2 linked regions of the Homo sapiens genome follow. The protein of the gene in region 1 interacts with the protein of each later gene in a biochemical or structural test. Each region holds a gene or a part of one and is shown in the gene's direction. Other genes may lie near its edges.

The links.
Region 2: the proteins of ACTR1A (region 1) and SPTBN2 form a complex in vitro, tested with the Homo sapiens proteins (2 studies listed by BioGRID).

What each region holds. Positions count from the first base shown.
Region 1 is NC_000010.11:102,485,376-102,492,723, reverse strand, and holds part of ACTR1A (alpha-centractin), read left to right. Parts: intron 1-2,110; coding exon 2,111-2,175; intron 2,176-3,585; coding exon 3,586-3,661; intron 3,662-4,448; coding exon 4,449-4,574; intron 4,575-6,990; coding exon 6,991-7,115; intron 7,116-7,348. UniProt on the Homo sapiens protein: Part of the ACTR1A/ACTB filament around which the dynactin complex is built. The dynactin multiprotein complex activates the molecular motor dynein for ultra-processive transport along microtubules.
Region 2 is NC_000011.10:66,726,202-66,733,616, reverse strand, and holds the start of SPTBN2 (spectrin beta chain, non-erythrocytic 2), read left to right. Parts: upstream 1-4,400; 5' UTR 4,401-4,876; intron 4,877-5,341; exon of another isoform or gene 5,342-5,456; intron 5,457-5,473; exon of another isoform or gene 5,474-5,631; intron 5,632-6,184; exon of another isoform or gene 6,185-6,313; intron 6,314-6,331; exon of another isoform or gene 6,332-7,415. UniProt on the Homo sapiens protein: Probably plays an important role in neuronal membrane skeleton.

The sequences.
Region 1 (7,348 bases):
GGCTTCCTTCAACCACTTGCTTCCTCCACCAACCTCTGTCTTGCCAAAGGCAAGCACCAGATGGCCAGTCTCACTCCCCCTCTTCCTGCAGAAGAGCAGGAATAAGAGAGTCAAGGAGGGAAGCAGGCATGTTGCTGGGAAGCCTTTGGTGCAGATAACCTTGGCTACTTAGAGTCTCCAGGTGTGTTCAGTGCTTGTAGAATGAGGTCAGTAAATACCACACTCCACCCCAGGAGAGTGGTCAACAGGCAGCAGGAAAAGGCTTGCCCCAGCTACGGGTGCAGCTGCAAACCATGTTGGGTTAGAAAGGTGAGGGTATCAGGTGTGGTGGTAGAAGAGTTAAGAAGGAAGAAGAGGCCAGGCGCGGTGGTTCATGCCTGTAATCCCAGCACTTTGGGAGGCCGAGGCAGGTGGATCACAAGGTCAGGAGTTCGAGACCAGCCTGACCAACACGGTGAACCCTCATCTCCACTAAAAATACAAAAATTAGCCAGGCATGGTGGTGCGCGCCTGTAATCCCAGCTATTCAGGAGGCTGAGGCAGGAGAATCGCTTGAACCCAGGAGGTGGAGGTTGCAGTGAGCTGAGATTGTGCCACCACACTCCAGCCTGGGTGACAGACCGAGATTCTGTCTCAAAAAAAAAAAAAAAAAAAGGCCGGGCACGGTGGGCTCACGCCTATAATCCCAGCACTTTGGGAGGCCAAGGCGGGCGGATCACGAGGTCAGGAGATCGAGATCATCCTGGCTAACACGGTGAAACCCTGTCTCTACTAAAAAAAAAAAAAAAAAATTAGCCAGGCATGCTGGTGGGCACCTGTAGTCCCAGCTACTCAGGAGGCTGAGGCAGGAGAATGGCATGAACCTGGGAGGCAGAGCTTGCAGTGAGCCCAGATTGCACCACTGCACTCCAGCCTGGGCGACAGAGCGAGACTCCATCTCAAAAAAAAGGAAGAGGACAGGGTGTATCTACAAGCAATACTAAGCCTTGACATCTGTCCTGCACAGGGTTGGTCTCTGTGTCCAGAGTCACTGTTTACATTGATTGGGCCCTGGGTGGTACCTGAGATGCTGGGAGAACTCAGATTCTTTTCTGGACACCTCACTCGACATACCAAGTGTTGGAGCAGCAGGACTGTGGTTCTCTTCTATTCTCAGAGTAGGCTTTAGTCTTTGCTTCTCTTTACCATCAGGAGACCAAGGAGTAAAAGGAAAGCATAGTTAAAAAGAAAACAACAACAAAAATCTCCCAAAGCATCGTGCTCTGCCCTTGCAATAAGAACCAGACAGCACGTGTTCCATGGGAGTCCATTTCAAGCATGACAGTGCTCATGGCGGTGTCTGTCACAGAGGCCCTGGAAGCTGGGAGAGTTCAGGCCTGAGCTGGGAAAGTAGGTTAAAAGCACCCCAGGGTGGCGTAACAAGGAGTCATGTGCTTTTCCTACCTTATGTTCCTGAACTTGGCTGCTTTGATGCTTCTAGGTACTTTCTTCTTTCCCCAGGTTTTCTGTCTTTTTCTTCCCTTTATTACTAGTATTTTTAATTCCCAAAGCAAAACATGTTCAATGTAGAAAAGTCAGAGACTACAGAAAAATCACACATACGGTTGTGTATACAGTGAGAATCCTCCTCACCATCCTATTTCCACTTCCCTTCTTTTGGTGTGCATTTACCTTTTTCTAGGTTCAAATAAATGTATATATTATATACAAATATTAGTTTTGTTTTTTTTTTCCTGTGAGACAGAGTCTGTCACCCAGGCTGGAGTGCAGTGGCACAATCTTGGCTCACTGCAACCTCTGCCTCCCAGATTCAAGTGATTCTCCCACCTCAGCCTCCCAAGTAGCTGGAACTACAGGTGCCTGCCAACATGCCCAGCTAATTGTTGCATTTTTACTAGAGACAGGCTTTCACCATGGTGGCTAGGCTGGTCTCAAACTCCTGACCTCAAGTGATCCGCCTGCCTCTGCCTCCCAAAGTGTTGGGATTACAAGTGTGAGCCACTGCGCCCGGCCGCTTTCTTTTCTTAAATAAAAATGGTACCATATAATGTATTTTTCCTTTTGTATTTGTGATAGTTCTGACTCCTCATTCTCTCTCCTCTTTCCTCAGGGATCCGGTGTGATTAAAGCTGGTTTTGCTGGTGATCAGATCCCCAAATACTGCTTTCCAAACTAGTAAGTCATTCTGTAGCTTAGACGTTTTGGAGGCTCATCAGCTTTGTTACAGGCCCAGCCCTATAAGGGACAGGAGCCGAGTTTGGAGTCAACAAAGGAAAACAGTTGTCTACATGGTACAATTTGAGAGGCACAGATAAGAGGCCTCTTTTTAAAAATCCAATTTTATCTGATGCTAAAAAATTTTATCATTGGTAACTTATTGCTTTGGAGGATTGCCTCTTGGTGGAGCCCTCCTTTTAAAATTCTCCTATCACCCAGGCTGGGGATTAACATTTAACCCATCTACCATCTTTTTTTTTTTTTTTTTTTTTTTGAGACGGAGTCTCGCTGTGTTGCCCAGGCTGGAGTGCAGTGGTGTGATCTTGGCTTACTGCAAGCTCTGCATCCCGGGTTCACACCATTCTGCCTCAGCCTCCCGAGTAGCTGGGACTACAGGCGCCTGCCACCGTGCCTGGCTAATTTTTTTGTATTTTTAGTAGAGATGGGATTTCACCGTATTAGCCAGGATGGTCTTGATCTCCTGACCTCATGGTCTGCCTGCCTCGGCCTCCCAAAGTGCTGGGATTACAGCCCTTCTACCATCTTAATGAGGAGTTTCTCAGAACTTTCCTCCTAAGACAGAGAGACTGCAGGCAGGAGAAGAGCACAGAGGCTTACAGGAAGGGCTTAAAGGGGGAGGAAAGGAAGAGGCTATCTGTCCGATCTATAGCATCACAGTTTTTTTTGTTTTCTGAGATGGAGTCTCATTCTGTAGCCCAGGCTGGAGTGCAGTGGCGCAATCTCGGCTCACTGCAACTCCTGCCTTGCAGGTTCAAGCGATTCTCGTGCCTCAGCCTCCCAAGTAGCTGGGATTATAGGCATGTGCCATCACGCCCAGCTAATGTTTGTATTTTTAGTAGAGATGGGGTTTCACCATGTTGGCCAGGCTGGTCTCAAACTCTTGACCTCAAATGATCCACCTGCCTCAGCCTCCCAAAGTGCTGGGATTATAGGTGTGAGCCATCGAGCCCAGCCCAGCATCAGTTTTACTTAGAGGTCCTGGGAAGGGGACTAAGGACACTAAAATGTTTTGAGTTAATCACTCCTTTAGAAATTCTCATTTCCTCATCTTTCTTGGTCTGTTCATACACTGCAGAAAGAGAAGAACTAGAGGTATTAAATACTCTAAAAATTTGTTTTCATAATTTATAATAAATATAAAATATGAAATAATATATAAATAATACATGTTCATTTTAGAAATTGTGGAAAATACAGAAAAGTATAAAGAAGAAAATCAAAATCAACTGTGACTTCACTCCTTGAAGATAATCTCAGTAGAATTTGAGTGTGTATGTACATCTATACATCCTTCCTGTGTTCTGTCATGAAATGAAAAATGATGGTCCTCCTCACTGTCTTTTCTAGTGTGGGCCGACCCAAGCACGTTCGTGTCATGGCAGGAGCCCTTGAAGGCGACATCTTCATTGGCCCCAAAGCTGAGGTAATTCCCAGGCCTACAGAACAAGCCTTAAGCCAGCAGAGGACCTTCATTATTCACCACATGGAACATGTCCCAACATTTGGACATACCCATAAGTAAAAGGGGCAACTTTCTCTGAAAATCTCCTTTTTGATTCTCTCATCCTAGGCTTAGGTGGTTTATTTTTCCCAGGAACAGCCTGTGGTCTTGGAGAAGAAAATACCTGGGACCTCACTTTGGGACACACTGAGACCAGTCTAGGAAACAGGGCTGTTGTCTTCTGCATCCTGTCACTGCCTTGTCAGTGATCAAATTTACTGTGTTTATTATTTTTTTCACAAAAAATATTCAGTGGGGAGATCCTGGCTGGGGTACCCTAGGGATGAGTTAATTCACACAGCTTTGTCAGAGCCCTCATGCAGCCTCTTGTAAGCAGATAGCAGAATCGCTGTTGCCATCCTTGGCTTCAAGTGCTGAGGCCCAGAGGTGGGAGCCAGGAGATTGTGTCCTGGAACCAGGCAATGAGGAAGATGCCTCCTGCCACTTGCCCTAGAGGCACCTGAGGGGCCATGGAAATGCAGAAGCCCCTGCTTTGCCGGCTCCTCGGGAATGAGGGCAGTTTGCAGCAAACAGTATTTAGCCTTGGAGAATGAGTGCCCACCCTTAGCCCTGGGCAAGGACAGCAGGGTGGAAGCTCAGGAAGCTGAGGCTTCTTTGCAAGGGATTCAGCTTGCACTGCTTAGTCTTGGGAGAACAGGGTCCTGGGTGGAGCCTGACTGCAGTCGTAAGTCCTGTTCTCTTTTCCCAGGAGCACCGAGGGCTGCTTTCAATCCGCTATCCCATGGAGCATGGCATCGTCAAGGATTGGAACGACATGGAACGCATTTGGCAATATGTCTATTCTAAGGACCAGCTGCAGACTTTCTCAGAGGAGGTGAGGATCCTGTGTGTAGGGCACTCCTGTAGGGTATGCAAAGCTGTGTCAAACTCCTACCCTAGAGATGATGAGGAGGACGATGATCACTGCCAAGAGTGCTGGAGCCATTTGATTTTCAGGCATATTCAGATTTAATCTTAACACCATTCCTATGAGATATAGGTAGTATTATCTCATTTTACAAACAAGGGAACAAGTTCAGAAAAGCCAAGTCGTGGCCGGGCGCGGTGGCTCACACCTGTAATCCCAGCACTTTGGGAGGCCGAGGCGGGTGGATCACGAGGTCAGGAGATCGAGACCATCCTGGCTAACACGGTGAAACCCTGTCTCCACTAAAAATACAAAAAATTCTCCGGGCGTGGTGGCGGGCGCCTGTAGTCCCAGCTACTCCGGAGGCTGAGGCAGGAGAATGGCGTGAACCCGGGAGGCGGAGCTTGCAGTGAGCCGAGATTGCGCCACTGTGCTCCAGCCTGGGTGACAGAGTGAGACTCCGTCCCAAAAAAAAAAAAAAAAAAGAAAAGCCAAGTGGTATTTCCAAGGTCACCAAGTGAACAAAGGGTAGAGATGGAATTCAAACCTATGTCTTTTAGAATTCAAAGCCTGTGCTCATTAACTTCTTTCACCCAGACTGGAGTGCAATAGCTCACTGCAGCCTCGACCTCCTGGGCTCAAGTAATCCTCCCATCTCAGCCCCACCCCCCACCATGCCCGGCTAATTTTGTGTGTGTGTGTGTGGTGGGGTTTTGCTCTTGTTGGCCAGGCTGGAGTGCAATGGCGTGATCTAGGCTCACTGCAACCTCTGCCTCCCGGATTCAAATGATTCTCCTGCCTCAGCTTCCCAAGTAGCTGGGATTACAGCATGAGCCATGGCACCTGGCAAATTTTGTATTTTTTGTAGAGACAAGGTTTTGCCATGTTGCCCAGGCTGGTCTCGAACTCCTGGGTTCAGGCAATCTATCCGCCTCCACCTCTCAAAGTGCTGGGATTACAGGCGTGAGCCACCTTGTGCAGCCTGTGCTTATTAACTTGTAAGGAAGTAACTCTCCATTCAAAAATGTAAAGGGAGGCTGGTCACTGTGGGTCATGCCTGTAATCCCAGCACTTTGGGTGGATCTCTTGAGCTCAGGAGTTTGAGACCAAGTTGGGCAGCATGGCGAAACACCACCTCTACTAAAAATATGAAAAAAAAAAAAATAGCCGGGTACAGTGGTGCGTGCCTGTAGTCCCAGCTACTTGAAATGATGAGGTGGGAGGACTGCTTGAGCCTGGGGGCATCGAGGTTGCAGTAAGCCAAGATCGCACCACTGAACTCGCAGCCTGGTGACAGAGTGAGACCTTGTCTCAAAAAAAAAAAAAGAAAGAAAGAAAATGCAGAGAGGTGCAGACTAGGTGTATCAATTTCCAGGTGCAGGTGGGATGTTTTCAGTTTTGGGTTTTTTTTGTTTGCTTTTTTGAGATGGAGTTTCGCTCTTGTGGCCTAGGCTAGAGTGCAATGGCGCAATCTCGGCTCACCGCAACCTCTGCCTCCCAGGTTCAAGCGATTCTCCTGCCTGAGCCTTCCTGAGTAGCTGGGATTACAGGCATGCACCACCACCAAGCCCGGCTAATTTTGTATTTTTAGTAGAGACGGGGTTTCTCCATGTTGGTCAGGCTGGTCTCGAACTCCCGACCTCAGATGATCCGCACGCCTCAGCCTCCCAAGGTGCTGGGATTACAGGTGTGAGCCACCACGCCCGGCTGTTTTCAGACAGTTTTTTTAAAGCAGTGGTCCCCAACCTTTCTGGCACCAGGGACTAGTTTCTTGGAAGACAGTTTTTCCATGGGGGTGGGGGTTTGGGGTGGCCAGATAGTTTCAGGATGAAGCTGTTCCACCTCTGATCATCAGGCATTCAATTCTCATAAGGAGTGCCCAACCTAGATCCCTCACATGCGCAGTTCACAGTAGGGTTCACACTCCTATGAGAATCTAGTGCCTTGGATGATCTGATGGGAGGTGGAGCTCAGACAATAATGCTCGCTTACCTGCCATTCACCTCCTGCTGTGCAGCCTGGTTCCTAACAGGTCACAGACTAGAACTGGTCTGCGGCAGGAATTTAGAGTTTCACAAAATCTTCTTGACAGTTGGAGATACACAGTAGACACAGGGGCCTGTATAACAATCTTGGAGGACAAGGAGGGGAGTTGGGGGGCACAGCTGAGGACAGAATGAAATTTTAAAGTGGGCATTAACTTGAAAAGTTGAGAAAACTACTTGGGCAGGGATAGTTGACAGGCACAGCTTGCCTTTTTTTGGAGTGAGGCTGACTGAAGTCCCCGGGCTCTCAAACCAGCAAGGCAGGGTCTTCTCCCCTAAGACTAATGAAGATGGAAATCTGGCCTTGGCCTCATTGTCTCCCGGGCTCCTTTCACCAGCATCCTGTGCTCCTGACTGAGGCGCCTTTAAACCCACGAAAAAACCGGGAACGAGCTGCCGAAGTTTTCTTCGAGACCTTCAATGTGCCCGCTCTTTTCATCTCCATGCAAGCTGTACTCAGCCTGTGAGTAGCAGCTGGCTAGCCCGGCCCCTGCGGGGAAAGCAGTCCTTTGGCACAGCTGAGGCTGGCTCTCCTCTGGAATGGTTCAGAGTAACTTGAGCCCCCTCTGCTAGGGAAAGGTTAAAGATGGTGGGAAAGAGAGAGAGGCTTTTGCTGAAACTGAGCACTGAGGCTTCGTAGTTGAAAGCAAAGAAGGACATGTGGCTGCTATTGACCATATCCCAGTGTCAGGACTC
Region 2 (7,415 bases), on another chromosome or scaffold:
AGTCCACGCCCATATACAATTGACTACTCAATATCTCCACTTGATTGGTTCAAAGATACCTCAAACCTAGGTTCCAAAACCAACAATCTCTCCACCCAAACCTGGTTTTCCTGGAGTATTCCTCATCTCAGCAAATAGTAGCTCCATTATTCCAGTTGCACAACTCATCCTTGACTAACCCTTTTTCCTCACCACCACCCCTGTATCTATCCCATCACCACATCTGGTTAATTCTTTCAACCTGTGCACTCCATCTCCACTGCCAGCAACTGAGTTCAAGCTACCATCTTCTCTGTCACCCTACCCACAGTGGTAGCCTCCTAACTGGTTTCTCACACATCTTTGCACCCCTCCATAGCAACTGGAGTAACCTATTCCCCCCATAGCAGCTACAGTGACCTTTTTAAAATACAAAGTTGATCCTATCACTTCCTTATTTCAACCTTTCAATAGTCTCTCAGGGCTCTAAAGGTGAAAATCAAAATTCTTTAAATAATGACATAAAAAGCTCTGCATGATCTAGCCCTTGCCTATCTCCCCAGTCGCAATTCTCTACACATTCCCTCTTCCCCTCTGTTTTCCCTGCACCCTGGTCTTTTCTCCATTTCTTTTGTATTGTTTTTTTTTTTTTTTTTGGTTGGTTGGTTTTTTGAAAAAGAGTCTCACTCTGTCCCCCAGGCTGGAGTGCAGTGGCACAATCTCAGCTCACTGTAGCCTCCGTCTCCTGGGCTCAAGAGATTGTCCTGCCTCAGCCTCCCGAGTAGCTGGGATTACAGGCACTTGCCACCACGCCCGGCTAATTCTTGTATTTTTAGTAGAGATGAGGTTTCACCATGTTGGCCAGGCTAGTCTCGAACTCCTGACCTCAGGTGATCCACCTGCCTCAGCCTCCCAAAGTGCTGGGATTACAGGCGTGAGCCACCGCGCGCAGCCTCTTTTCTCCATTTTTTTTTTTTTTTTTTTTTGAGAGACAGAGTCTTGCTCTGTTGCCCAGGCTGGAGTGTAGTGGAATGATCTCAGCTCACTGCAACCTCTGCCTCCCGGGTTCAAGCAATTCTCCTGCCTCAGCCTCCCGAGTAGCTGGGATTACAGGCGCATGCCACCACGCCCAGCTAATTTTTTTGTATTTTTAGTAGAAAAGGGGTTTCACTGTGTTAGCCAGGATGGTCTCAATCTCCTGACCTTGTGATCCGCTTACTTTGGCCTCCCAAAGTGCTGGGATTACAAAGTCGTGAGCCACTGCACCCGGCCTCTTTTCTCCATTTCCTATGTACACCATGTGTCCTGCAACATCAGGCCTGTTAGCCATATGCTCTGTGGCTAAGAACATGGGTTCAAGGGTCAGATTGGGTTAAAATCCCAGCTCTACCCTTGCCTGGTTTGATGACCCTGAGTAAGGTACTTAATCTCTCAATGTCTCCATTTCCTCATCTGTGAAATGGGGTTAATACTTACCTCTTGGAGTTGTTATAAAGGATTAAATGAAATGTTATGTGTAAAGTATTAGAAATACAGTTCCACGTTAATGTTAGTAACAGCTATTATTATTCCCCACTCTGTCTGGTTAATGCTTCTCATATTTCAGATCTCAGCTCAGGTGATCTGAGGTTATGACTCTGTTCAGTTCTCTCTTAACATCCTGAACTTTTCATTCATAACACTCATTATACTTTGTGGTTATATATCTGATGGGTTATTTTATTAATGTCTGTCAATCCCACCACAGGCTCTTCCAAGAGAAAACAGACAGTATCCATTTTACTCATCATTATATCCCCAGATCCCAGCACAGTGCCTGGTATATAATTAGCCATATAGTTTTTGCATAAATATTTGATTGAGCAGGGGCGAGGAAGTGAAGCCAATGAGTGCAAATGACTCAGGAAGACTGTGAACATAAAGAGCAAGGGGAATGCATGGAGGGAAGTCGGGGCTTCTTGATTATTTTTTAAGCTGGCAAATGCTTGAGCATGTTTAAATGCTGATGGGAAGGAACCAGCTGAGAGACAGCAGTGAGGGCCGTGAGGCTGCAGAAGGGGATGAGACTTAGCATAGGAGCCAGAAGAATCCATCTTAGGTGAAAAGAGGGACACCTCTTCCCTGGTATTGAAACAAGAACTGAGAATTCGGCTATGTATGTATGTTTGGTGGGCAGAGCCAAAACCTTTCCATGAATCTTGGTAATGTAAGCAGCAAATGTGGATTCACTGAGAAGCTCAACAAACTTGGTGGATATCATTCCATTCGCTTTTGCAACTCAAATAAGAAGGAACCAGATATTTTCTTCATCATTGACTGTACTGGTTCACTACAGAGCAAAATAACAAGTTTCCAAAGCAACCCAGTCACAGAGCTGAGATAGGTGATCTCAGTGTTCTCTTTATTCAATGTGCTTCCTCTCCAAATCGGGAAACAGTATGGGAAATAATACGGTAAAATCATAACGGCTGATACTGATTAAGTGCTTACTATGTGCTGCATATAATTCATTTACCTGCAATAATTCATTTGATGTTCCCCACATTATGGTGCCATTTTACATGTAAGGAAACTGAATCCTAGGGAGGTAACTTGCCCAAGGTCACATAGTCAGTGGGTGGCAGAACTATGTTTTAAACCCAAGGAGTCTGACTCCAAAATCAATGCTTTTAACCATTCTGCTATACTCCCTGTCTAGCAGAGAGGAAAGAACATATTAGGATTCAGAAGACCTGGAGTTTCTACCATGAACTAATTCTGTGAACTTGTACATTCACTTAGGTGTCTGAACATCAGTCTGTTCATCAATAGAATAAGAATGAGAATGTTTATCTTACAAGGCTTCTTGAAGGATTATGAAATGCTGAAAATAGGAAATTATAAAAGATATTATTTTGCTAATCATAAGACTTAATACCCTTGACTTCTAATTGGGTCACGATATTATAGGCTGTCATTGAGACCCTTAGTTCCCGTAACCAGTACAGCAGCAGCAGCTTGGTGGTTCCAGTTCCTTTGGCAGGGCAGCTGATTCTCTAATTTTTTTTTTTTTTTTTGGAGATGGAGTCTCGTTCTTGTTGCCCAGGCTGAAGTGCAGTGGCACAATCTCAGCTCACTGCAACCTCTGCCTCCCGGGTTCAAGCGATTCTCCTGCCTCAGCCTCCTGAGTAGCTGGGATTTCATGCCCACCACCACGCCTGGCTAATTTGTGTATTTTTAGTAGAGAAGGGGTTTCACCATGTTGGCCAGGCTGGTCTTGAACTCCTGACCTCGCGATCCACCTGCCTCGGCCTCCCAAAGTGCTGGGATTACAAGGGTGAGCCACTGCGCCTGGCCATGGGCAGCTGATTCTCATCCCATCAGCTTTAATGTCCCTGACCAAGTGTCCCTGATGACCGTCATGCACAGGTTGGTGCCTCCTTCCCCCGAACCAACCAACACATAATCCTACCTCTGGGAAGAGTTGCAGTTTATGCCCTTGTTTCTTTAATGCCATTGCCTGAAAGAGTGGCTATTAAAAATAATAAATAGCCTCAGGCCTGGCACGGCAGCTCACGTCTGTAATCCCAGCACTTTGGGAGGCTGAGGCAGGCAGATCACCTGAGGTCAGGAGTTCAAGAACAGCCTGGCCAACATGGCAAAACTCTGACTCTACTAAAGATACAAAAATTAGTCGGGCATGGTGGCATGCACCTGTAATCCCAGCTACTCGGGAGGCTGAGGCAGGAAAATTGCTTGAACCCGGGAAGAGGAGGTTGCAGTGAGCCGAGATCAAGCCACTGTACTCCAGCCTGGGTGACAGAGCACGACTCCGTCTCAAAATAATAATAATAATAAATAGCCTCAAATGCAGCTAACTGTGAGGTACACACCAGAGAGCCAGTTCCAGTTTCGTGGTAGAAGCACAGATATCAGAGCTAGGAGAGAACTTCAAAGTAATCTTTCAATGGAACTCCCCAACCCTCCTCCCAACCCATTTTATAGACTAGGAAAACCAAGGCGAGGTAGATGACACCACTAGTTAGGGTTGTCAAAACCATATCTGGAAAGTACTTCAATTGCACATATTTGTTTCAGTATGCATACCTTTTCAGAAAGGAGCAAAATCCTAAATTACCCATAAATCTATTATAAAACCTTAAATCCAATAATTCACTCAAAGCCCATTCTTTGAGTGCCCTTACTTGACCATTTCAGGCATTCCCTGGATAGAAACGGGCCCTCATCTTCAGGGGCAGTACATAACCTAACGGCTCTGTACAAAGCTCACCCTGTTACCACTGGCTCATCTCTGAGCTGAGTTCTCTAATCTGGAAGAACAGCACCTACTTCTCAGAGCTGGAGTGGGGGTGGGAGTGTCACATGAGATGATGCGCTTTTAGCACCCACCTGGCACTCTGTGAGTTTGTCATGATTTGGGCATAATTCCTTCCTCTCCTAAGCAGGCAGCAGTTCACCTTGGTTAAGGACCTTGGACCTTAGACCACTCAGACGCTAACAAACCAAGGAGAAACCCAGCCGTGTCAGGCCTAGAAATGTCTGCCCCCACCCCCACCCCCCTCAAGACGGTGACTAGGCCGGAATTCTCCTGGTTGATAAATGAGAGGAGCTGAGAAGCGCTGAGATGCCTGTTTGGAGCATCTGATCTGTAGAAGACGAATCTTCACTGTGCCATGGAGATGTTCTGGGAGGGAGAGCCGGCCCAGCTGCCTGAAGGAGGACGCGAGAGCGAGGGGACGGGTGAGAGGAATGCTTAGCGGAGACGGACTGGAGGTGCCCGGAGAGGAAAGGGGAACGGAGGCTGGATCTCGGGAAACCTCGTCGGCAGTGTCATTAGAGGAAGGATCGCGTGTCTCGGGGATACGGATTTTGGAGGAAAAGCAGAATAGGGACAAAGGTGAGGTGTCCGAACCGGGGAGATCAAGACCTGTAAGCTGTGGTGGGGGACCCAGGGACCAGCGAGGACGGGAAGGCGGGGTTTTGGGGGGACCCCGCACGGAAGGTGGCTGGGGGTCGGCAGCCGGCCTCGGAGCTGCTGCCGCGTTCGCCCCGAGGCAGGTCAACTACCCCGGGCGGGGAGCGGCGGGGAGCACCGAGAGGGGCCTCGGTTGCCATGGCGCTGGGCGGGGAAGGGGCGACTCGGGCCCCGCCCAGAGCCCCGCGGGGCCGCCGGCTCCAGATGGTCCCGGGCCTCCCGCGGGAGCCGGCGGCCTGCGGCAGGGGGAGGCTATTGTCCTCCTTCCGCGGCGCCGCAGTCCCGCCGCTCGCGCCCGCGCGCCGCCGCCACGCGCCCCGCCGCCGCCCGCCCCGCGCGCCCCCCGCGCCGCCTGCGCCCCGTGACAGCGCCCGCCCGCCGCCCGCCGTGCGCCCGGCCGCTGCCTGCAACCGCCCGTCGCGGCCGGGCTGCAGGCGCGGCAACTACCGGTGCGCCCCCGCCCGCCGCGCCCCCGCCCGCCCGGCCGCGGCTCCGCGCCGAGGTAGGTGCCGGCGCCCCGCCCGCTTTGTCCCGGCCCGCGGGGCGGCGCGCTTTGTCCGGCCGCGTGCGGTCGGCGGGGTCGGGGTCGGGGTCGGGGTCGGGTCCCGGCGGCCGGGGTGAGCCGGGGCGGGAGCAGGCGGGGACGGGACGGAGAGGGTCCCGTGCCAGCCACACAGGTACCGGGATGAGGGCGGTGGGGGCCAAGGCCGAGGGGGGGGGACTCGGGCCTCTCTGGAGCCGGGAGAAGAGTCTGGAACAGTTAGGGCTGACGGACACGTTCGCGGCGAGGCTGGGAGCGGGTCTGACAGCGCCGGCCCCTCGCGTCGCCGGGGCTGCGGGGCGGACGGGCCGGCGCCGGGCCAGGTGCTGGGGGCGCGCTCGGCCGCCTCTGCCCGGCGGACTGCGGGAGCCGGGCTCCCTCCTCCCCGGAGCCGCGTGGGCTCCTCCTCGCCTCTTTGGCAGCTGGCTCCACGCGCTCCCTTCTGTTCCCCCACAGTGTGTGGGAGAGGGGCACGCGGTTGGCTGTGGTGGCCGGAACTGGCCCGGGGAGAAAGCAGACGCTTCGGGCGGCGGGGAAGCGGCCGCGTGCGGCGTTTCTGTGGCCAGGAAGCTGATAGGGCTGTGCGGTCCGCCCCGCACGGAACTACCCAGCAAGGCCTGCTCGCGGGGGTGTTCCGGCTCCGGTGCCACAGTCGTGATTTACCTTCCACTCGCTTGGAACTTTACCCCATTGACCCCAGGACATTGCATGCTTGTGTGAGGTGCAGGTTTGCCCCGGTCTTAACCTGCTACATGTCGTCTGCCCTCCCCCTCTCGGAGCAGCCACAGTTCCAACGCTGGAGAGCCCGGGGGTTTCAGGTATGGGCAGAGGTAGCAACAAACCAGTTTTCCTTGAAGGTGAAGAGGGGCAGAGTGAGTTCCAAATATGTGTCTTAGCTTGAGGTGTGGGGCAACCTCTTGGCTTATTCAGAAAGGCAAAGGATTGGCCGAGGAGAAGATAGGATGGAGTTTACATTCTTCCCTTAGAGAAATTGATGTGACCCCGGGTTGGGGAAGGGAGATAGCAAGGGAGTGAAGAATCTGAATATTTGAATAAATCTGCCATAACTGGAGGATTCTAGAAGAGAAAATAAAATTTCAGTCCCCCTCTTCAGCCCAGTTCCTAACTTCCTCCGAGGGAATTGATCAGGAACACAGTCTGAGAGGTGGGTCGGGGTTTTGCTGTTCCTTCCTTCTGCCCTGGGCCCATCTTTCTCTTGCCTTCCTGGAGGCCCTGAGCTGATTTGTGACTTCTTTTTCGTTTTATCTCTCTGCCAGTCCACCCATTTATACTTAGAAGCAAATAAGATTTGAACTTTGCCAAAGTCCCCATTTCTTCTAATCTATTATTCATCTCACTGTCATTTGTTCAACTCTGCCTTCCCGTGACTTCTCTAGCTCTGCCGTTCTCCTCCCGCATATCTGCGGTTCGCTGTGCTGTTTCTTTCATTACCTGTGGTACCTACTCCATCTTCATCTTCCTCTCCCATCGCCTGAGCTCCTGAGGGGAAGTGATATTTGAGTTTAGTGTGGGGTAGGGCCTGAGCAGACCTAGAAGCTAACCCTGGGTCACACTCACCCCTGAAACTTTGTGTCTTCTCAACACTCATGGCTCCTCTAACCAATTCCAGCTGCTTCTCATCTTTGGACAAGGGTGGCCCTCAAAGTGTGGTCCCCAGACCATTAGCTTCAGTGTCACCCGGGAACAGGTTAGAAATGCACATTCCCAGGTACCACCCCAGAAGTACTGAATCGTAAACTGGGGGATGGGGGGGTGACCTGTGATTTAACAGTCCTCCAGGTTGTTGTGATTCATGGAAGTTTGAGAATCCCCAGACCTGAGCTGTTGAGCTCAACCCTGAAAGTATTCCAGCCCAGGAGCAGGTCTTCTCCAATCCCGTGTTCATTCTTTCCTTGAGCT